Regions from separate parts of the Homo sapiens genome. Here all the other regions are linked to region 2. The links come from fine-mapping of genetic effects on gene expression. A gene starts in region 2. Each other region holds a variant in brackets. All regions are shown on one strand. Distances are between the middles of the regions.

Region 1 (5,685 bases), 75 kb after region 2:
CCTGGGTGACACAGTGAGACCCTGTCTCAAAACAACAACAAACAAACAAAGCACATTTTCCTCCTCTTATGCTCTGCAAGAGCATGGGGAAGAAATACTAGTTTTATTGTCTAACTTAGTTTAAACCCTTGAACATAAAGGCCATGCTTATACTTTTTCAGTTCTCCAAAGAGATGTACATATAGGAAGATACACTATTAATGCTTGTTGTTTAATTCATTTTTCAGCCCCCTGTATCATGTACTATAGTTAGTAGTTTATAATTTTTATATCTTTTGAATGATATAAGAAATTCTATCTCAAAAACTTATTAAGTATCTGAAGAAAATTTGAAAATTAAATTTAAAGCTGAACCTTCATTATGAAAGCTCTTCCTAGGATGACATCTTGCCATCCATAACACATCTGTAAAATCACCCATGTATTTTAATTAGTACTTATACCCTCACCTCACTCTATAAGTTAGCTGAGGCAGATTACCAAAATATGCAATAATCCGGAAACCATAAAGTGCTAAGGCTTGAATTAGACTATCTGGGTTTGAATTCTAACTCCCCTACCTATAAGCTCTGTGTCTTTGGACAAAATGCTTAATCTCTCTAAGCCACAGACTCTTGAGTTATAGGAGAGGTTGACATGAGTATTAAATACACTAATCCATGCAAAGTATTTAGCACAGTACCTGACCCACAGTTAGCTTCTAATAAATGTTAGAAAACATACAATACAAAAAAGTAAAATAAATTATAAATAAATATAAATCAGGATCAGAGAAAATATAATTTAAAAGATCCTATTCTAAGGAGTTAAACTTCAATTATGCATTAAAGCCTGGCTATGAATTAAGCTGAAGCCTAATGACCAAAGCGTAAGGGAAATGTGGCTAGTCAGTGCACACTATTAATAAAGTTATCTTTGAGGAAGATAAGTGAAATCTTTATTGGCTGATAGAAAAGCAGTTCTCATGTGTGGCTTCAGGTGGGAAAACACTGGGCGTGTAGTATAATGTTGCCAAGTCTTAACATTAAACTCCCTGGGTTTTGGGTGGTAGTCTCCTAAAACCTGCTTAAAGGTATGCCAAAGGCATAATGCCAGCATGTAAAAATTCACGAGGGCCCCCTAGAACATTGTTACATCAGTTATAGACTTTTTTTAAGCAACTCATATATTTTTTTAAGTTTGCAAGCTAGAGCTTATAGAAGAGATCTACTATTTTATTTCCTCTGTCCACTTTTACTTATATATGGGATTTGGAAGTTTTCTCCAACCTTACCCAGGGTACCTTTTATCCATAAATGCTTTCTTCGTCATATCCCAACATGTAGACCACTGCCTACCCTGTTTCAGTTCAATGTCCTTTTGTTCAGCTGCTGTTACATGTCAGCCCTCTGCTGGGTGCTGGATATGTCTGTTCTCAAGGAGCTCAGTCTGCGTCCCCTTTAGATAAATCCTGCCCCCTTTCACCTGCCAGACTGTAAGCTCCTTGGTGGCTGGGGACATTATTTTGCATATTGTCATATTTTCAAAGCCTAGCAGGCTATCTGGCACATAATATAGATGCTGAGTAAATACTGTTGAATGCATGAAGGGGATTCTTGCAGTCCTATACATCAATAGGTGTGGGAATGTTGGCTTTTAACACAAATTGTTGCATGTCTTATATAAACTTTCTTTCGTGCAGCACACAGAAGATCCATGCTGCTGCTGCTGCTAAGTCCATTGCTCTTTGTAGGATCCTCCGCCATTTGTGGAAGGTGTATTGCTGTTAGTAGCCCCAACTCTGACAGAGAGACTGGCTTGCTACTCACCATCTCTGTTTCCTTTTCTTCGTGGACATGCAGCTAGATTCTATTTCCCAGCCTCCCTTGCAGTTAGGTATGACCATGTGGTTAATTCTGGCCAGCGGAATAAAAGCAGAAATGATAGGAGGAAAGGATAGCACGTGGGAAATTGTATGGGTCAGGTGCAGAGGTGTGTCACTCCCTTCTCTGTCAGCTGGATATTGATACCTAGGGTAACCAGGCATTGCAGATGGCAGATTCTCTGTAACCTGGATCCCTGAATGACTATGGAGCAGAGCTGCTACTACTCCTGTCTCCTGTTCATTGGACTTTGTGTGAGCAAGAAAAGAAAACATTTAATGTGTGAAACCACTAAGATTTCCAATATAGACTTTTTCTTTTATTGCCTGCCCAATGGAGGCCTTTCCTTAGGAAGAATAGTCTCTTACTGATTTTCACCAAGTTGACCTTTCGGAAGCTTTCCTTTTTTTTTTTTTTTAATCCCAGAACTAATTGAAATGTATGCTTTGGTCTATTCATGGGAAAGGTTTGTCACAGCTGATTCTGTGTGCCAATGCTAAAGGGATAGTTATGTTTTGTTCAGTAAGCTTAAGTCAGTGGCAGAAGGAAGAAAAACAAAACAATCCTAGTTCCCTAGTACTGTGTCAGTTCTCACTCCTCCCAGCCATTATAATGTGATTTCCCCAAGCCAAGCAACAGTTTACAAAGAGCAGCTGTCTCCTTAAGAAGAAAGGA[CT/C]TTTTTTCCTGCTCATACATGCCATTTATTTCAGTAGAGCATTCTTGTGGGCCAAGACTGAACAATTTTGAAATGCATGTTGTACAATCAGATACCAGTGTTGAGTGTTATAAGGTATTTGGGGCATTTAAAAAACAATATAGATGACATGTCAGCTCTTCAGAAAGGGTGGAGAAGAGTTATTAAGACTATCATCTTTTTTTTTTTTTTTTTTTTTTTTTTTTTTTTTTTAGACGGAGTCTCACTCTGTCGCCCAGGCCGGACTGCGGACTGCAGTGGCGCAATCTCGGCTCACTGCAAGCTCTGCTTCCCGGGTTCACGCCATTCTCCTGCCTCAGCCTCCCGAGTAGCTGGGACTACAGGCGCCTGCCACCGCGCCCGGCTAATTTTTTTGTATTTTTAGTAGAGACGGGGTTTCACCTTGTTAGCCAGGATGGTCTCGATCTCCTGACCTCGTGATCCACCCGCCTCGGCCTCCCAAAGTGCTGGGATTACAGGCGTGAGCCACCGCGCCCGGCCGACTATCATCTTTTAAACTGGTAGCTTGTGGGGTATGTTTGATATTAACAACAAAATCTCTCAAAGTAGATAGTTACATTTACTATAGAATACTTCTAACAATTGTTATGAGAACATATAGTGTAATATTTAAGCACCTAAGCTCTGAACTTGGACACCTTGGGTTCAAATCCTATTCAACAACTCTCTTCTCTGTGTGACTCTGGACAAGGCATCTAATATCTCTGTGCCTTGGTTTCCTTTTTGGAAAATGAAGAAAAAATAGTACTGTACCTATTGGAGGAATAGATTCAATAATCTGTGTAAAACACTTAGCACAATTCCTTGTAGAGTAAGCTGATGTGATAATATTAATGAAAACAGGGTTGGGCGCAGTGGCTCACGCCCGTAATCCCAGCACTTTGAGAGGCCGAGGCAGGCAGATCACGAGGTCAAGAGATCAAGACCATCCTGGCCAACATGGTGAAACCCTGTCTCTACTAAGGGTACGAAAATTAGCTGGGCGTGGTGGCACACACCTGTAGTCCCAGCTACTCGGAAGGCTGAGGCAGGAGAATTGCTTGAACCCAGGAGGCAGAGGATGCGGTGAGCCGAGATCACGCCATTGCACTCCAGCCTGGGCAACAAGAGTGAAACTCATTTTCAAAAAAAAAAAAAAAAAAAAAGTTAACGAAAACAATTAATGTTACTCATAATTATTTTTAATGATTCTAGGTTATTCAAATGTAATGGATCCCAAGTAAAGTCTTGGCAGTAGGTAGTGTGGATATATCTCTTGATTTTTACTGTGCCTCAAAGCCAATCCTGGGGGATCCCAGTAAAGGTAAGGAAGGACTGAGAAACTAAGTTTATGTGGACTACTTGGTCTCTGAGAGTCATTCATTCTCAATCAATATATTTAAGCACCTGTTATGTGAGTTGGTATTGAATTGTCACTGAAGGCTCAGTGGTTTTATGACAAGCAGCCATGGAAGAGTTAACACATTGCAAGGAGAGTCAGTTCCTGTGCCCTTGTTACTGTTGTCAGTCAGGGAGTAATAGCTTGTATTTTGACTGTTTGATCTACCAACTTTGTTATCTCATACTTAAAAAGGTTTAAAAATTTGTAATTCTAGTGTAAACACATTTACCCATGCCACTGAGTAAATGTGCTTATTTCATCACATAAAGAATAATCATCTACTGCTTTTTCACAGTTCTCTAATAACTAAGAAAGTAGAAGCATTTTCTTTTTCTAGTTTATAATATCTTTTGTCCCCTCTACTTTACAGGAATGTCGTTTTCGGTAGCACAATTCCTAAGACTTCCTAAATCTTGTCTTACAAATATGGGAAATGGCGGAGGGTTTTCAAGTTTCTAGGTTGCTTTTTTTGTTATTTTAAAACGAGAGAATCAGAACACAAATGTAGTAAAAACATTGGCAAGAGCTTCAGATTATTAAGATTACTAGAAAGTTGCATGTTCCAGTTTATGAACGAGAACTGCAGCTCCACCACTGTCTTTTGTATACACAGATGATGTTCTAATTTAATCCCTTCTTACGGATTGCTACATTTTGCTGGTTTCCTATCTAAGAAATGAGATGAATTTAATTGCTTCTTCACTTATACGATATCTTAAAATAAGTTATTTTAGGGAAATCAATTTTAATCCTGTATCTGCCCTGGAAAACATCAGAGCATACAAGCAGAGTGGCTTTCATTCTTCTGCTTTTAGTATCAGAAATTTTGTTTTTGTGCTTTACTATTTTTTCCTTCACTTAATTCCCTGAGTTAATTTAAAGAATGTAATTCCCAATTATCTAATCAGTCTCAAAAGCAATATAGAAACTAGAAGTCTAACTGTGGAGAATCTTTTACAACTACCACTTAATACTAGTCAGTAAATTCTAAGAATAGTTTAAAAGCATCCTGACTTAAGTCATCCCACTGGAAAATGCTTTAATTATCTTAGAACACTCAAAGTTTTAGAAAATGATTAGAATTTCTGAGAGGGGGAAAATAGATACAAACCCTGTGGTTGGAAGAGTTTGTGTGTGTCCAAGCCTTCACACTTAAAAGAATAACTGCTAGAATTGTTTTTTATCTAGAATTATAATAAATATATTTTAATGTTTTGGTTGCTTGTAAATCCTGCAATTGATTGCTTAGACATACACATAACAAGAGGTTTGGCGTCAGCATTAAAGTTAACCTACTACCATTTGATGTGTTTTCAGGTTTTCGGTAATTCATCTTTAAGAAATGATTTCCAAATCTGTGTTGGATTTTGCTATTGAATCTAATTAATTTTGAATAAATTAATTTATTTCTTGGAATATTTTTGAGTTTTTCCCCCAGTGTGGTTAATGAAAAAAAATCTGCATATGTGAAAAGAAATGGACTTAGCATCATCTTTAATAATAGAAATGAAAATACTTACAATTATTCCCATTAGGTACTATGGTGTCAACACTCATAATTAAGACTATCCAGGCATTATTCAATTCTGAGAAAGCTGGCATTATCTAGGGTATTGCAATTGTTTTGCCAGATAAAGCAAACACGTTATTTGACTTCTTAGGAAATTAACTGTGTATGCTACTGCTAATCATCTAGTCCATCTTACTAGTTAAAAAAAAAAAAAACC
Region 2 (5,685 bases):
TATCTGTTTCTCTCCATCCCAGCCACTACCACTGTGGTCCATGCCACTGTTAACCTTTCTCCTTGCTACTGGTTACAGTTACTTTTTTTTTTTTTTCTTTGAGACAGGGTCTCACTCTGTCACCCAGGTTGGGGTACAGAGGTGTAATCATGGCTCACTGCTAAGGTTGGGAGATTGACCTCTCGGGCTCTGTCAATCTTCCTACCTTAGCCTCCCTAGTAGCTGGGACTATAGGCATGCCACCACACCTGGCTAATCTTTGTACTTTTTGAGAGATGAGGTTTGCCATGTTGCCCAGGTTAGTCTCAAACTCCTGGGCTCAAGTGATTCGCCCACCTTGGCCTCCCAAAGTGTTGGGATTACACGCATGAGCCACTACGCCCAACACCAAAAGAATCTTTACAAACACCTTACCATGTAATTTCTTTGCTGTCTCATAGGATTGTGCAACACCATGAGGCACCCTTCACATTGTATTGTACCTCCTAGCTGTGCAACCAGCCAACATTGCTCCTCTCCTAAAACATAGTGAGACTCCACCTGTACAAAAAAAATTAAAAATTGGCTGGGTATGGTGGTATGCACCTGTAGTCCCAGCTACCTGGGAGGCTGAGGTGTGAGGATCCCTTGAGCCCAGGAGTTCGAGGTTACAGTAAGCTATGATCACACCACTGCACTCCAGCCTGAGTGACAGAGCAAGATCCTGTCGAAAAGAAAAGAAAAGAAAACAGATTACTTTGGTGGCAAAGTGAAAAGTTGATTGGATGAGAGAACATTTTGAGGCAGAGAGACCAGAGAAATTTTGCAGGCAAAGGAGAGATAACAGAGATTAGGATAGCACAGGGATGGAGAGAAGAGGACAGGTGCTAGAGATATTTGAAAAGGTAGAATCAAGAGTTTGGCATCTGACTGGATGTCATAGACAGAGTCATGGCCCGCTGTAGATGTCCATGTCTCAATCCCAGGAGCCTGTGAATATGCTTCATGGTAAAAGGGACTTTGATGATGGGATTAAGATTCTTGAAAGGAGGAGATTACGCTAGATGATGAAGGTGAACCCAATGTAATGAGGGTCAGAGTCAGAAAAGGCAATGTGAGGATTGTGGCTGAGGTTAGAGTGGTGTGCTTTGAAGATGGAGGAAGGGTCCATGAGCCAAAGTATGTGAGCAGCCCCTAGAAGTGGAAAAGGTAAAAGAAATGGGTTATTCTCTACAGCCTACAGAAAGAATACAGCCTTGTAGTCACCTTGGTTTTAGTTCACTAAAACCCATTTTGGACTCTTGACCTCCAGAATCGTAAGATAATAAATGTGTGTTTTAATCCACAAAGTTTACGATAACTTGTTACAGCAGCAATAGGTAACTAATACACTGGGCATGGGTATAAGGGTGAAAGGAGCATTGAGAAGAAGGGCCTTGTACAACTGGGTGGATGGCTGTTTGGGACCCCAGAGTCTGGGAACCCAGAAGCAAGAGTGAATGAGGGGCCGGGTGCAGTGGCTCACACCTGTAATCCCAGTACTTTGGGAGGCTGAAGTGGGGGGATCATTTGAGGTCAGGAGTTTGAGACCAGCTTGGCCAACACGGTGAGACCCCATCTCTACTAAAAATACAAAAATTAGCCAGACATGGTGGCACATGCCTGTAATCCCAGCTATTCAGGAGGCTGAGGTAGGAGAATCACTTGAACCCGGGAGGCAGAGGTTGCAGTGAGCTGAGATCACGCCACTGCAATCCGGCCTGGGCGACAGAGTGAGACTCCATCTTAAAAAAAAAAAACGAGTAGGGGAAGAACAGAAGGTAAAGAAACATTGACGTGGCACTTAGTGAGGTTGGGGTGCCTGTGACACATCCCACTGGACAACTGGCCATAAGGATCTGGCCCTCAGGAGAAAAGCTGACCCCGAGAGAGGGCTTTTGGAGCACCCTCAAATATTCTGTGATTGAAGCCAAGGAGTGAGAGAATTCGCAGAAACAAACAGAATCAGAAGAAAGGAAAGCCTAGAACAAAACCCAAGGAAAACTAAAACTCAAGTGGAGCAAAGGGGAGTGGCCAGAGAGGAAGAGGAAAACCCAAGACTTGTGGGTCACAGAAGGCAGAGGAGGGGAGAGTTTCAAGGAGGAAAATCCAACACTTACGGAGCACCAAAAGAAGAGAAGGGAAGAGTTTCAAGGAGGGGACCAGTGTCTCGTGTTCCTGACAGGAGAAAGAAATGCCTGGAGAAAGAAATGATTGAATATCTACGTCAATATTGAAAGTGGATTTAGCATGAGGCTACTATAGTTTAAGCTTCAGAGACCCTTCATAAGCTCAGGAAGGGGCCCTAGAAACTTCGTATTTGTAATTGTTTTATTCTTCCTAAAGAGGGACTCAAAATTCAGAAACTTCAGGGCCTATCAAATTCTTACCAGTATGATTTCACGGTTAAGAGCTTAAAGCCTGGAGACAAAAGAAGCCTGCTTTCCCTTTCGCTGTTTAGTAACTTTGGATGGGTCACATTAACTTTCAGCCTCGGCTTTCCTCAGTTGTAAAATGGGAATAACGTTTCCTACACCTATAGGGTTATAAGGCTCAAAGAGTACCTACACAGTGCCCCGTACATAATCGATGTTTATAAGCGTTAGCTACCATTGTCACTCTTGTCGTTGTTGCCGTTAGCTACCATTGTCACTCTTGTCGTTGTTGCCAGAACAAGACAATAAACTCCTTAAGAACAGGATGTGGCATCCCCCAAAGCCCATCACAGGCACACAGACATACTTGCCAAGTGAATACTCCACTCTCCCCCAACTCTCTGCGTGTTTAACTAGAAATACAACTTTAATTATATTCTTAGTGCGACACACACGGTTGGCTTTTCAGCAAGATGCCAGTAGCAGCTTCCTGAAAAAGGGTGCCTTCGTCTCAGTGTTCCCCCTTCTTGGTGAGCCCCGAAACTCACAGATCGTTTGTCTCCCGCACCCCGCCGGCTCCTCCCTCCCGGGTCAACCTGGGACAGACGCGGAGATAACGCACTGACAGCATTAGCATTGTGTGTGCCACTTAAAAGGCGCTCAAGGAATAAGGGATGTTAGTACATTTTCCCCCACATTTCCTGGCCCGCACTCATTGCCTGGGGGCTCAGCGGAAGTCGCTTGGGGGTGCGGGGGGGTGGAGGGTGCGGTAGGGATGGAGCCTCGCCCAGTGCTTTCGCCTCCTCAGCGTGCTCCCCGGGCCCGGCTGGGTTCAGGTGTCCCTCCGGGCCGCCGGGGCGGGCTGGAGGCCGGGAGCGGGCAGTCGACGCATCCGCCGCCGCCGCAGGAGGCGGAGCGCTGCACCTGGCGGCCGGTCCTCAGCGCCCGGCCCTGAAACGGGTCCAGCCGGTAGTGACCGGCGGCGGCGACTGTGAGGCCGGGGCCGGGGAGGAGGAGGAGCCGCAGCGGGAGAGAAGGTCGCGCCGGCGGGAGCGCTGGGCCCTCCGCCTCCGTCCTCCGTGGCCCCACCCGGTCCGCATCCCTCGCCTCGCCTCGCCGCGCCCCGCCCAGCCCGTCGCAGCCCCGGAGGAGCGCGCGAGCAGCCCGGGATGGTGCGCGCTGCCCCGACAGCCGCCGCCCCGGCGCCCCGAGCCGCCGCCCCGTGCTCCGGGGACAGGGCTCCCCGCGCCCCGCGCAGCTGAGCGCTGCCGCCGCCGCAGCAGGTGAGTCGGGCCCGGCTTGCGGAGAAGGGGCTCGCAGACCCGCCCTGGCCTCCCCCGCCCCGCACGGGCCCAGCCGGAGGGCGGGTAGGCACCTCAGCCGCGCACACCTGCTGCCGGGAAAGGGGCTTCGGGGCCGGGGCTCGGAGCCCAGCGTGCGCCGCTGTCTCCGCTCGGGCCTCGCTCGCCCGCCGCTCCCTCCCTCCCTCCCTCCCCCGGCTTCCGTGTCGGGTGTCATCTTTGTGGGGTGCTGGGGGAGGCTGCCGCCTGCGCCCCCAGCGCGCCCCGTGCTGGCAGCACTTCCGCAAACGTAACTGGAGTCGGGAAAACAAAGGCGCTGCCCAGGGAGCCCTCGCCGGGCGCCCACAGCTGCTGCCGCGGGTGGGGACGGAGGGTGAGCGCCGATGCCCGGGTCCTCCTCCGCCCGGGCCGACCCGCGCCCTCGCCATAAACATCCCTGGGAAAAAGGAGGAGGTGAGAACCTCCACACAGCCCCAGTGACAAGGACGCGGCCACTTGTGTGGCAGGAGGAGGAAATTGACAACGTCTGCCCTCCCAGGTTAATAAATACGGAAAAAAAAATACCTCTGCTCTGCCAGCCACCATCCTAGCAGACATCCCCCACCTCGTGCTTTACTTCCACTTGGTCTAACATGTCTCTGGAGCCCTTTTGAGATACTACTGGGGGTTGCTAGTCTTTCTGGGTCATATTTATTGCCCATAGAGCAATTTTCCTGCAAATTTAGGTAAGATGGTGGAAAAATACAAACGCAACTTTCCCCCTCGTTAATCCCATCCCCACATGGACAGACAGGTGGGTTAATTACCTTTATGCATTCGCAACCACGGACGTTTCTTTTCATCCCAAAAAGATTGAATAAGCACCTCACAGAACTACTGGAACATATAATACCTTGCTTATTAGTGTGCAAAAGACTTAAAGAGTTGGGGTTCTAATCCCAACTGGTATTTAAATAGATGTGTGTGCTTGGGCATGTCACATCTTCCTGAGCCCCAGTTTTCTCACATGGAAAAGAGGATGGTTGGATATTATAGTGGCCAAAATTTCCCCTAATCCTTCTAGAAGTCCATGATTTTCTAGAAATCTAACCTCTTAAGTATAGATGAATGTGAAGGGTGGGTGGACATACAGTTGACTAAAATATGTAATAAAAGGAGATGTGTACTTGGTAGGTCCTTTCCCCAAGATGTGGGCACTAGCCAGCTAAAAGTGTATGCATCTGTTTTAGCCTTGTTAAGTAAAAGGATAGGATCCTCCTCTTTGGGAAGCTTGGCTTTTGACACGTCAAGCTGCTAGCAGAGGTGCAGGATATGGTCAGCTGTTTAGTGATAGTCAGATGGCTTGTATTTATCACGAGGTGTAAGTAAAATTTAGGATTGCTTAGGGGAAGGATGGGACATTGTTAATGAGCCCAGTGCAGGATGCTCTGGGGAAACAGGAGGAGAGAACATCACTTCAATAATGCATTAAAGCTACTAAGTAGTTGTGTGTCCTTCATGTTTACAGCAGTTTATTTCTAAGGCACTTTCCATCTCTATACAAATAAATATAAAAGCGTGAAGGCAAATAAAACACAAAGACAAAAAGCAGAGTTCACAGGTATTTGGTGGTGTGAGTATTGGATCACCAATTCCATCATATATAGTGTCTGGACTATTAACAGTATTAAGGCATTTTTTTGGGTACTTATTATGTTCAAGACACCATTGTAAACATTTAGTATCTCAATCTCTGTAAGATAAATCTTTCCCCTAGTTCTGTGCATGACAAAAAGGAAGCTCAGAAGGGTTAAGCAACTTACACAAACCACATAATCAGTAAGAGGTAGAGTTAAATTTGACCTCATGTTTCTGGCTCCAAAGCCCAGGAAATTTCCACATGGTGTCCCTCCCTAATCAGAACCTATTAAGTCTCTCCACCTACGCAGATGTCTTCCTTAGCTTCGTGCCTTTGAAAATTAACTTGATTTCAATGTACATGTATTACTTAT
Region 3 (5,685 bases), 50 kb after region 2:
GATTTCCAGCTCCAGAACTATAAGAAATAAATGTCTATTGCTTAACCCACCAGTTTATGGCATATTGTCATGGCAGCCCGAGCAAATTAATAATGTGTCTAAATAGAGTAAGGAGAGCCTGAGGCAGGTATAGAGGGATGGGATCCCCAAAGATTCTAAGAGTCAGAAGACACTAGAATAGGGACCTATGGCCTAACATAGTGGGATGATGGTAGGAGTGAGTCCGGCAACGGCAAACTTGTATTTTTCTGTATGTATATGTGTTCCTGGTTTCTGTATGTATATGTATATGTATATGTATATGTATATGTATATGTATATGTATATGTATATGTATATGTATAATGTATATGTATATGTATATGTGTGTTGGTAAGCAGATCCACCATGCAAGCCTGGAAAGGAACAGATTTGCTTTTTGCCCAAAGTCCCTTCTGAGTGGTGGAGTTGGAGACTTTAGCCCAGGTTGTCTAGTTTATAATCCCATGCTCTTTTGTATACATTAGACACTAATATTGGTATCATCAAAATAGAGACTAGTATCATTGCTATTTTATTGCTATTTATTAAGTTACTATTAATTACTATGACTTTCATTATTACTATTAAGTTATTCATAGCTCTATTAATTAAATTTTATTAGAAATCTAACGTTTTAAGTATAGGTATAATATTACAACATCTTTGTGAAACAAGATTTTAAGGTTAAGTGATCACTACTTTTTGTGTGTATGAAAGAAAGCACCTTCTAAATTTCCCTGAAAGGTTTCTGATCCAGCTGGGGGAGGCTCTGCTGGCCATGGGAAGGGCACAGGATTTGACAGCAGAAGACCTGGTTGAGTCTTGCTTCTGCAGTTTGTTGATCTGCACGACCCTGGCAACTTGGTGAACCTTTCAGGGCCTTGGTTTCATCAGCTGTAAAAGAGGATTAATAACAACGCTTATCCTTCCTGTTTCAGAAGATTATGGGCAGAAATACATGAGATATGAAGTGGAAAAAAATGCTTAAAAATTGGAGAACATTATAGAATTGTTAGTATGGAGGGTGGGCACGGTGCAGGGGCATCGTGCGGAGGTCTCAGAGATTGCTGGAACTGATGCCCTTCCTTTTTTTTTTGTGATTCCTGTCACAAAAGAAAGGACATGAGTGGTTGGAAAAAACTATATCAGTTACAGTTCCTCATTTAAAAACAGAATAGAGCAAAATTTCTAGCCATAAAAGTTCAAGTTGACAGGTTTGAGGTAGGAAGGAGTCTACTGTAATTGTATTTACTCTGCTTTTTTTTTTTTTTTTTTTTTTTTGAGACTGAGTCTCATTCTGTCACCCAGGCTGAAGTGCAGCGGCATGATCTCGGCTCACTGCAACCTCTGCCTCCTGGGTTCAAGCAGTTCTCCTGTGTCAGCCTCTCTTGTAGCTGGGATTACAGGCATGCATCACCATGCCCAGCTAATTTTTATATTTTTAGTAGAGATGGGGTTTCACCATGTTGGTCAGGCTGGTCTCAAACTCCTGACCTCAGGTGATCTACCCGCCTCAGCCTCCCAAAGTGCTAGGATTACAGGTGTGAGCCACCATGCCTGGCCTGCTCTACTTTTTTCCTTACTTGAAAAATCCATGACTTAAATTTCACTTCAGACAGAGAAGGTGTTTAGCATGGTGAGTGGGAACTGCATTGACTTCAGTCTGAGTGCTAGTGAATGTTCAGGAATGACAGAGAGGGAGATGACCCTAAAGCCAGTGATGCCTCTGGCCTGGCTCAGACTCTTCGTTGTGAGATCTGTGGAGCCGCATCAGGAATTGAGGAATGGAAAAGATCGGGGCTCCTTTCAACCCGCTGGTGATATGAGCCCCACTCCGGGAACTCCCTGGCTGCTCTAGGAACCTGCAGGGCTGATGGCATGGCCTAAGCCCAAGAGGGAGACTCTGGACAGCTCTGTCCCTGCCATTCTCTCTGTGGCCTGTTCACACCCCTCTCCTTTCACAATCCTGTGTATGGTGCCCCATCCCTGACAAGGCAAGCATCCACTTCTGATTATTTAAAGTCTGCCTGCTTGATACAGCTCATGTCCAGCTGCAGGTAAGAGGTGGAAACCTTGGCTCACCCCTCGTCCTGCCTCAGCATCGATACCTGCAGTTTCTGTGGCTACCTCAGCAGAAATGATCTTTCAGCGCATTTCTTCTCATAACACAGAATTTTGCTTCTGGGTAAGCTTTTCTCCTTTGATCTAGGATATTGGACAACTGTTGAGTGGCATTTGCTTTTCTACTTTCCTCTTACCCCAGTCTTCCCAATGACTCGTCAAAGTTTAAAATGTCAACCGTCTTCTGATGCCAACATAAACGTTCATCCAGCTTCCTTAATCCGCGCGCACAGCTGAGTTCAGAAGTCCAGAAGTCTATCTACACTAACACTGCTAGTCCGTTTCTTATGGTCCAATCCAGAGGTATTTCCTCAAGCCCTTGTCTAGGTTTGATTTCATGTAGGGAGCTTGGAGTGTGGAAAATAGCACATTGCTATTA[C/T]CTACTGAAAGAGCATGGTCTGGCAGGGGGATGGGGACCTTGACTTCCACTGGCCAACCGACTTTGTGGCCCCGGTCCACCCCTGTGGCCCTCTCCTTCCTTGTCTCTGTGAAAAGAGCGAGCTGGATGCTATGGCTCCTTTCAGTTCTGACTCTAATGATCTAACTTTCTTCTTTGGCTGGTTTTAGTATGTGAAAAAAACCACCTAGCAGACCCCACTTCTTCCTGTTGGCCCCCTACCCCCAGGACTCAGACTTTGCGTGTTTTTTGCTGACAAGTCAAAAATGTGCACAAAGCCATTCAAACAGACCATCTAGCCAGTGATAGGGGATGTGTTTTATGATAGCAGTTGCTGGGATCTACATAGAGAATTTTATTTCCTTGAAGCCAATTGACCTGAATGGAAGTTAGGACCCCAAATCTCAGACACTTCTGCATGTACTGGCTCAGGCAGAATTTGTAAAAGATGTGGCTGTTATTGCTGAAATATTTGCATTTAATTTAATGGTAGCTTACATATTTGCACAGTGTTTTGCAGTTTTTCTTTACATGCTTGTTTAATCTTTTCAAAACTCTAGTATAACCAAAGCAGTTATGACCACTCCTGAGAAAGTCCACCTCAACTATGCATGTGCCCTGGATGCCACCACCTTGGCCAGCGTGCAGCATATGCCCCGCCATGCTGCCCATTTTAAAACCAGATTAATTAGCACTGTTTGTAAAAGGTTTTCATTTGACCTCAACCACTGGAAAAGCAAATAGCAATTCATGAAATAAAGTAAATGAGTAAATATGGTCAGATTAGGTTGTACAAAATGCGAAGAGTCCTCCTCTAAGGATACAGCCTCACTCTGACTGTTGAGGCCCGAGGAAGCTGCCAGCGGTGTCACACACTCTGTTGCTGGTCTAGGGAGGAAATGGCTCTGGAAAAAAATACTGGCATTCTTTACTCAAGTTTGCTTGATGTTGGAGTTGTAAGTGACCTCGAAGGGCATTTTAATGGGCTGAATTGTGGCCCCTGAAGATTCATACGTTGAGGTCCTAACCCACAGTACCTCAGAGTGTGACCATATTTAAAGTTAGGGTCTTTAAGGATGTCATGAAATTAAAATCAGGTCATTAGGGTCAGCCCTCATCTGTTATGAGCAGTGTCCTCGTGAGAAGAGATTGGGGCCACAGATAGGCACAAGGGAAGATAGGCGATGACACAGGGAGAGGATGACTTGTCTGCAAGCCAACGAGAGGGGCCCTGGAGAAACCAACATTGCCAACACCTTGATTTTGGACTTTTGGCTCCCAGAACTGTGAGAAAATAAATTTCTGTTGTTGAAGCCACCCAGTCTGTGGTATTTGTTACAGCAGCCTTAGCAAACTAATACAGTCCTGTAGGCCTAGCTTCACCCCAGTTTTAGATTCCCTTCCCCCCGAGTGCTTGACAGATGGTTATTAGCCTTTGCTTGACCGTTTCTAGAGATATGGAACTTGCTGTCTCCAAAGGCAGTGGAGGTCACTTGAGACTCTTTCAGTGAAAGTGGCAAAAATCCTTACCCAGAGAAGCTTAAGTAAAATGGGGACTGTATTGTCCAATTGAGAAGTCCAGCAAATGACCAGAGGTGTAGCTTTAACCAGGTCTCAGATGACGCGATCAGAACCTGCATCTCTCCCTCTATTAGCTCTGTCTCCTTTTGGGCAGGCTTACTCATAAGGCCTGCGCCAGAGGTCCCAGGCAGCTCTAGGATCAAGTTCAGCTGAGAACAGAGAATCATGCTTAGTTTCTGCTTAGCAGAAGGTAAAACAAGAACATCTGTTGTACTGACTGCTCCCAAGTCTGACGTAGAGAGTGGGTCCATCCCCTCTTCAGTAGAAAAGCCCTTCCCATCCTTGAGTCTCACCTGCAGCTTTGCTTCTCCAACTCCCTAGGGGTTTCTCCCAGAACATCCTATCCAAGACTCCTTTTTTCCTCCCTCCATATTGTGGCTCCTTTCTCTTTTGTTTTCGTCAGTGATCTCTTAAGATGTGATGCCCTTAACTGTACCCATTCCTGCTGTGTCTCACCACAGTCAGGAACAGCAGGATTAGTATCTGCTTTTGATTTGGTCATGACATTGCTTCAACCTGAGTTTCGATGAACTTGTTCAGCTTCGTCAAATTTAGCTTAGGGTCAAGTAAAACTCTTGAGGCCTTTTTAAAATTAACGGCTATGCCAAATGTCAGTGATTCTTCTCAGGAAATTATAGTGTTTGTGTCATATGTATACCTTAAGCCATATCCTAGGAAATTTTTAAACAAAATTGTAGGGGGTGTGTGTGTGAATATGTTCAGTCATTTGACTAAACAGAAAAATATAACAACAAAACAGCATATTGTGTCTTCTAAGTGGTTGGGTTCCATTAATCAAGGTTCTCTTTTGTTTTAAACATCTCTAGTTTTCTACCTGGAGATACACACAACTTAAGAAAAAAACAGATAAACTAAAATAACAATGGAGAGATATAAACATGGTCACAGCACAGTGACCAGCACAGTGATCCTGCTGATGGTGACCATAGTTACACTCTTAGCTTATCAGTCATTTTAGAGGGAAGAATCTGAACACAACAAAATGATTTCCAGCTAGTAGAGACTCAGACCCAAATTACTTTTACCTTTTCTCTTTCTAGCAGAAACAATAGAAGGAAGTATTAGTAGCTGCAGAAAATATACACAGCTAAATATTATTTCTAATTCACTCTCTGACATACAATGTGATTCTTATGCTCTGTTCTACAAGGATGGGTCAGTGGCCAGTCATACCTGCTGGCTGATAGAAGCTTGGTGGCTCCCAGGATCTCCTTGGTGGTCCCTTCAGCTATGCTGTGGGACTACCACTGACTCTGAGCTTTGTGGCTTATATCCTAGCTCTTACTCTTCTGGTGAGATAGGCTTGTGGTGAGCAGAACCCTGTTATCTGCTCAGAGCATGTGCTGAAGTTCCATTGCACAGTGCGTCAGGATGCTCCAAATAAACAAACTGTAATCAGCTACTCATTGAGCTATTTATTGTTTGTCCACATAAATAAAAATATTTATTTTCAACCATAGCCTATTAATGTTAGTCAAAAATGTTGCAGAATATAGACATCTATTTTTTAAATATATTTCTAGGCCTCTTTTTTAAGTCCATTC
Region 4 (5,685 bases), 34 kb after region 2:
CACTGCAGTTAATAATGTCTTTAAAATCACTGTTATTCATTCCCAGAAAGGTACCCAGTTAGGTCTTACCAATGCGTGGAGTTCTTAGACATCATTATTTAATAAGTCAATAGCATGAGTTGAACACTGACTCAGTACAGAGTATGTGTTTAGGTTCTATTTTCTTTTTTTTCACGTTTTATTTGTTTATTTTTTTATTATACTTTAAGTTTTAGGGTACACGTGCACAACGTGCAGATTTGTTGCATGTGTATAGATAGGTTCTATTTTCAAAGGAATTGTTAGGTTATTTCCACATGCTAAGAAAAGATGGTTCTCTTCTACCTTTGCCTTTTGTCTGAGACATATGCAGCATTTTCATGATAAAATCCTAGTGGGTTTACTACTCCTTTGGTAAGCTTAGACTTGTGTGTTTCTTTCCTGTGTAGTATTAGTTACTCATCATTTCAAAATTCACTTAACCTTAATTTTCTGGTTTTTACGGACAAAAAGCATCTTCCATTTCTTGTTTAATAATGTGATGGAAGAAGATGGCTGTTATGGTCATATTGCTCCCAAGAGTCTGTGGGAATTCCATCAGTATGTGGTCATTTACCTGTTTTGAATTTTCATTCTGTCCATTAAAATGTATTAATTATTTCAAGTGCTTTTAAAAGAGTCTGATAGCTAAAATGAGAATATGTCCACATACTTAGGTAGAATGGATCTGTTCCTTTTAGTGATAATTTTGGGAGCTCAGTCAGGTGGTATTGGTTGTGATTTGGGGATTTAAACTTTCCACTGGAAGAATACCATTCATTAAGTAGTTGGTGAAGAGAAATGATCTCTGAATTATGAGCCTTGATGTGTTGCTTGTAGGATCACAGAAGTAGATCTGCCCATGGCCTTTATGCATGCATGTATATTATTTCAGTACTTTGTGGTTGTCCTGTTGGAAGTTTGTTTTTAGGAGTTGGCACTACCATATATTTGTGGAGATTCACAAATTCTTCATCTAGAGTAATAATAAGAAAGATTCATACCAGAAAATAGTTTTTTAAAAATAGCATGTCCAGTTTTGAACTCAGTATTTTAACAGTTTCACAATATACAACCAGTTTCTCAGGGACTGACCTGTCAGTCTAAACACACACACATAGAGTATCTGATTTCTGATTTTGACCTTGGATTTTGTCCTTCTCTGGAAGGTGACTTTCTCAGGCAAATAGGATAATAATGCTAAATATTTCCACTTTTAAAAATAAATTTCTTTTGATCCAAAATCATAAGACTTTGGAATTTACAGCAAGTATATTTTTAGGCTATAAATGATTAACAGGATATAAATGTATCTTAAGGTATCTTCACATTGCTTAACATTTTAGCAGCTATGAGTAGGATTATAATCAAAATACATTGCAGTAAATCATTTGTAAATTTGTAAATCATTACTTTCCAATGTTAGGCCATCCCCTATGTTATTTGATTTAAATTTATTTACATTTTAAGGGACACAGAAAAATCTATTCAATCAATCTGTGACTTTGCCCTGAAATTCTTACACTCAAGGTCTGTTTTGCCATGCAAATATTATCCGGGGGGGTTACATTACCTATTATTAGCCATCAATTACTACTTAATATTAGCAAAATATACAAATGAACTAGCCAGTCAGTTTGGGAAAGAAGAAAATACCTGATGCAGCTAGTAAGAGGAGGAACACCAGGGTTTCCTGATGGGATGCTGCAGGATGAACCAGAACAGATAGCAAGATGCTGGGCTTCAGCACAGCCAAGGACACATGGGAGGTGGCACATGATAGTCTGGTCACTGGAGGAATAGCAGTAAGTATTATAAGAGGGAAGAAACTCTGCAGCCGGGTGTTCAATGTGAGCTGGCCACTGAAGGGTTTAAGGAAGATCATGCCTACTTTTTTTTCTCCTTCTTCTCATCATCTTATTTCTACCCATCTCTTTGTGCCATCTTTGCTGATCTTAGGCCCACAGGCTCTCAGATCCTCTCCTTGCCCCGTATGAAAGGGTGCTGATTTCTGTAGGCTATGTTTTCCAGGGTCTGTTCTCGTGTCTTCTACTTGGGTTCGGCTAATGTATTGGTTCTCAACTCACCAAGAGAGCTTTTAAAGCTCCTAATGCCCAGGTTGCACCCAGACCAATTACATCAGTCTTTCTAGGGGTGTACCGAGGCATTCAACGTTTTTACAGCTTCCTAGTTGATTCTAGTTTGTGCAGCCAAGGTTGAGAACCACCAGGCTAATGGGAGGCATAGGTAAGGGGAGGATTACAGGAAAGGAGGAGGGGCGGGGGTTGGGGGGAAAGCAGGGCATTTATATTTCTCTTTCCAGCTCATGCAGCATGTTTGTGTAAGATTTGGAGATGGTTCCCTCTAGTCCTCTCTCTGGCCTCTTGTAGTTTACTTATGTACATGTGCTGGTCAGTACTCAGCTGAAGACTCTAGGGAAGCTACAGATCTCTACAGTCCTCTCTCTCTGTAGCTTTCTCCACGTGGGTACTCTGTCCCGCTTCCCAGACTCTCAGCCTTGTCTCCTCAGCTCTAGAGACCTCTGTGAGCTGCTGCGTCTCACCTATGCCCCACCCACTGTGGGTGGCCCTGAGCTCCAACAACATTCTCTCCTCTCTTTATTCTTCTGCCCAAGGCCGTGGAGAGGCTGCCTGTGGTTCTCACAGTGGTCTGGCTTCCCAGCTTTTCTGTCACCTACCTAACCAAGTCCCTGAATTAAGTCAGATTGGTGCCTGCCTCTGATGAGATCCTGATCCACCACTCTTCACTACTTACAAAGACTCCTGATGGCAATTGATACTGTGAAGAAACAGAATACAAATAGAATAACTCAATTATTGATTAAAAAGCAAAAAGATGGTAGACCTTAAATAACTTTTTCCCCATTCTGATTCCTTAAGGGAGGATTAATTCTTCTTTAAAAATGGTTTTTACCACAATAAAAATGTTTTAAAAGATGACTTAATTCTCATAGTAAATTTGGAATTATGAATTCTACATGCTCTAGAGGACCAAGTATTATTCTATATTACTTAAAAATCAAAATCCTAGACATTTGTTCAATTTAGTTGAACAGTTATTTAGGCCCAAAGAGCCTCAGATTAGTAAGATGCAGGGGCTGAATACTAAAGGGAAGCGTGTTGGAAAAAACAGGAGAGACTGAGGCCAGATGGATGCTGGGATCAGTAACCTGAATTTCATCTGGAGGCAGTAGGTAGCCATAGCAAGGTTCAAAGCAGGGAGGACCATAGATTTTCATATGTTCCTCCCTGCTTTGAATGTTGCTATG[C/G]AGGGTAACTTTGAAGCCAGGAGCCCACTGAGAAGGTTCTTAAAATAGTCCAAGTAAGAGACGGTACAGGCCTGAACTGCAGCAGTAGCAACAGAAATTGAGGGAAGGAATAGATCTGGGAGGTAAAATTGACAGAATTATTTGGATGTGGAAGTGAGGTAGAGACCCCTACATTTCCAGCTTGGTATGGTAATTCCAAAAATCTAATAGGAAATTCAGAAAGGAGATGTAGAATGGGGTGGGGGTGTGATTGTTTGGTTTGAAATTGAAACATCTAGATGGGGATGTCTAGCAGGCAGTTGACACAATATTGTAAGTCTGAAGCTTATAGGAGAGGTTAGGACGGGATGCAGATTTGCAGCAGTGAAAATCGGGAATGTGGATAAGATCAACAAGGAAATCTTGTCGTCTAAGAAGAGAAATGGGCTGAGGAAAATCAATTATAATTGTCTCCAAGATAGTATTTCAAGTTTCTGATTTATTGAAATGTTGGTCTGTGCTTTATTGCTTAAAGTAAGTATCCTTATGCTTGAGAATATTTTGTGTTATATGGAACTGTCATTATGGTATTACCGTAACCTGTTTCTATATATTGTTTTAGCAGCAATGGACTTTCTGAGCACCCCCCAATATCATCACCTGAGCCAGGAACCCTCTGTGGGTGTTCCTAGGTGGGCCTAAGACATAAGCAAGGGAGAAAAAAAATAAAAGGAACAGGACTTTAAGGATTGTATGGTGGTTACGAGCAGAGGCTGAGTCAGATTGCCTGGCTCTGCAACTTGGAACTATATGGCCTTGGACAAGTTACAGAACTTTTTGCATCTCTGTATTGTTATCTATAAATAGGGATATTATTAGTACCTGCTTCTTAGGGTTTTTTATGAAGACTAGATGAGATAAAACATGGCAATTGCTTCAACAATGACCAGCATAGATTAGGAGTTCAGCTTATTTTACTTTTTTTCTGTCAGTCTGATATATTATGCTGTTTATAACTACAAGACCCATTGAAGTTGATAAAAATACAAGTTGACAGTACAATATCAGAAGTGTACAGATGATTAAACCTGCAAAGTCAAGATGTTTATGATTTTCAAAATAACTAACATTCCCCCTTAAACATCTTAGTCAAATTGAAATTTTTCTCCCCAAATTTCTGATGACCATAGATTTTCAAATGAAATGGAGTTATATCAAATTGGAAGTGCACTCCTGATACAGCCTTTATATAATAGAATCTTTTGCTCTTATAAACAAAGGTTGTCTTCTTAAAGATTAGTCTAGTCTGGGTGTGGCTCACACCTATAATCCCAGCACTTTGGGAGGCTGAGGCAGGAGGATGTCTTGAGCCCAGGAGTTCGAGATCAGCCTGGGCAACATGGTGAGACCTTGTCTCTACAAAAAATAACATTAGCTGGGCATGGTGTCACACGCCTGTAGTCCCAGTTACTTGGGAGCCTGAGCTGGGAGGATCTGTTGAGCCCAAAAGGAAGTCAAGGCTGCAGTGAGCTGTGATCACACCACTGCACTCCAGCCTGGGTGACAGAGCAAGACCCTGTTTCAAAAAAGAAAAGGAGAAAAAATGAGTAGTCTAATTAAGTTAATCAGTACTAGAAAATGAAGTACTTTTATACTTTCAATTTTGTAGGATATGTGTAAAAAAACTGTTGATTTGATGTCATCTGACTAGTTAATGAAATAAAAGGTAATAACTTTTCTTAGCACTGGTGAAATGAGACCTGTTTGGCCTGTGTTTTCTCTGCCAGAGCAGTACAAGTAATTGACTGTGGCTTTAAGCCCAGTGTATGAGTATTCTTGGTCATGGCCCAGTTTTTCACAGAGGTACGAAGATTCCATGTGGAATCCTGCCAGCCAACTTATAGGCACTGTAGAATATAGTTTAGCCACAACATCAGTTCTACTGTAATATCAGTGTCAGTTTTTAAAATGTGAAATAAATGAGTGCTCTGTAGCAGTGAAACAGGAGTTTACTCACAAGGTCTGAGGAAGGTGGATTGCAGATGTAAAGTGGCTGTGTGTTCTTTTCTTTTTAGTGTAGGGGAGATTTTATGGTTCCATCGAAGTCATCATTCTCCACAACTCAGTTTTGTGTTTTTTGTTTGTGTTTTTCATTTATTATATAAAAACCATGGCAAAGCACTAAAGAAAACAAACATAAAGCCACACTGTAACTCCTGAAATTGGATAATCAGTCCAACATTTCTACAGGGGTTAGAATTTATATCATCTTGTGTAACTTTATTGTTACAGTTTTGAAACTGAGTATTAGGGTGCTAAAACCATCCTCCATTTCATTCAGAAACAAGTGTTTCATAAAGATAATGTTTTGTGCCCTATTTTAAATTCCAATTATTTTA

Which allele goes with the higher level. Positions count from the first base shown, and alleles are read on the strand shown. Sizes are in standard deviations (SD) of each study's normalised expression. Not every link is listed here.
As copies of C replace CT in region 1, the expression in subcutaneous fat of the gene that starts at base 3,528 in region 2 goes up (small effect, 0.29 SD a copy in GTEx).
For the expression in nucleus accumbens of the gene that starts at base 3,528 in region 2, C is the high allele of the variant in region 3 and T is the other (small effect, 0.18 SD a copy in GTEx).

The links. PIP is the estimated chance that this variant, and not a neighbour inherited with it, causes the effect.
Region 1: its variant is the best candidate, but not a certain one, in a credible set for the expression of MFSD6 in subcutaneous fat (GTEx, PIP 0.57).
Region 3: its variant is the best candidate, but not a certain one, in a credible set for the expression of MFSD6 in nucleus accumbens (GTEx, PIP 0.63).
Region 4: its variant is the best candidate, but not a certain one, in a credible set for the expression of MFSD6 in whole blood (TOPMed, PIP 0.50).

What each region holds. Positions count from the first base shown.
Region 1 is chr2:190,480,135-190,485,819 of GRCh38, forward strand. The region is part of intron 4 of MFSD6 (major facilitator superfamily domain containing 6); the gene reads left to right. It also overlaps a transcript of NEMP2 not described here. Among named protein-coding and RNA genes, the nearest start is that of NEMP2, 52 kb to the right of the region's middle. The variant CT/C (reference allele first, on the strand shown) is at 2,538.
Region 2 is chr2:190,404,828-190,410,512 of GRCh38, forward strand. MFSD6 (major facilitator superfamily domain containing 6) reads left to right here and starts at 3,528. Exons shown (of 8, transcript NM_017694.4): 1 at 3,528-3,676. RefSeq lists an enhancer at 2,799-2,848 and a silencer at 3,109-4,148.
Region 3 is chr2:190,454,657-190,460,341 of GRCh38, forward strand. The region is part of intron 3 of MFSD6 (major facilitator superfamily domain containing 6); the gene reads left to right. It also overlaps a transcript of NEMP2 not described here. Among named protein-coding and RNA genes, the nearest start is that of MFSD6, 49 kb to the left of the region's middle. The variant C/T (reference allele first, on the strand shown) is at 2,522.
Region 4 is chr2:190,439,186-190,444,870 of GRCh38, forward strand. The region is part of intron 3 of MFSD6 (major facilitator superfamily domain containing 6); the gene reads left to right. It also overlaps a transcript of NEMP2 not described here. Among named protein-coding and RNA genes, the nearest start is that of MFSD6, 34 kb to the left of the region's middle. The variant C/G (reference allele first, on the strand shown) is at 3,308.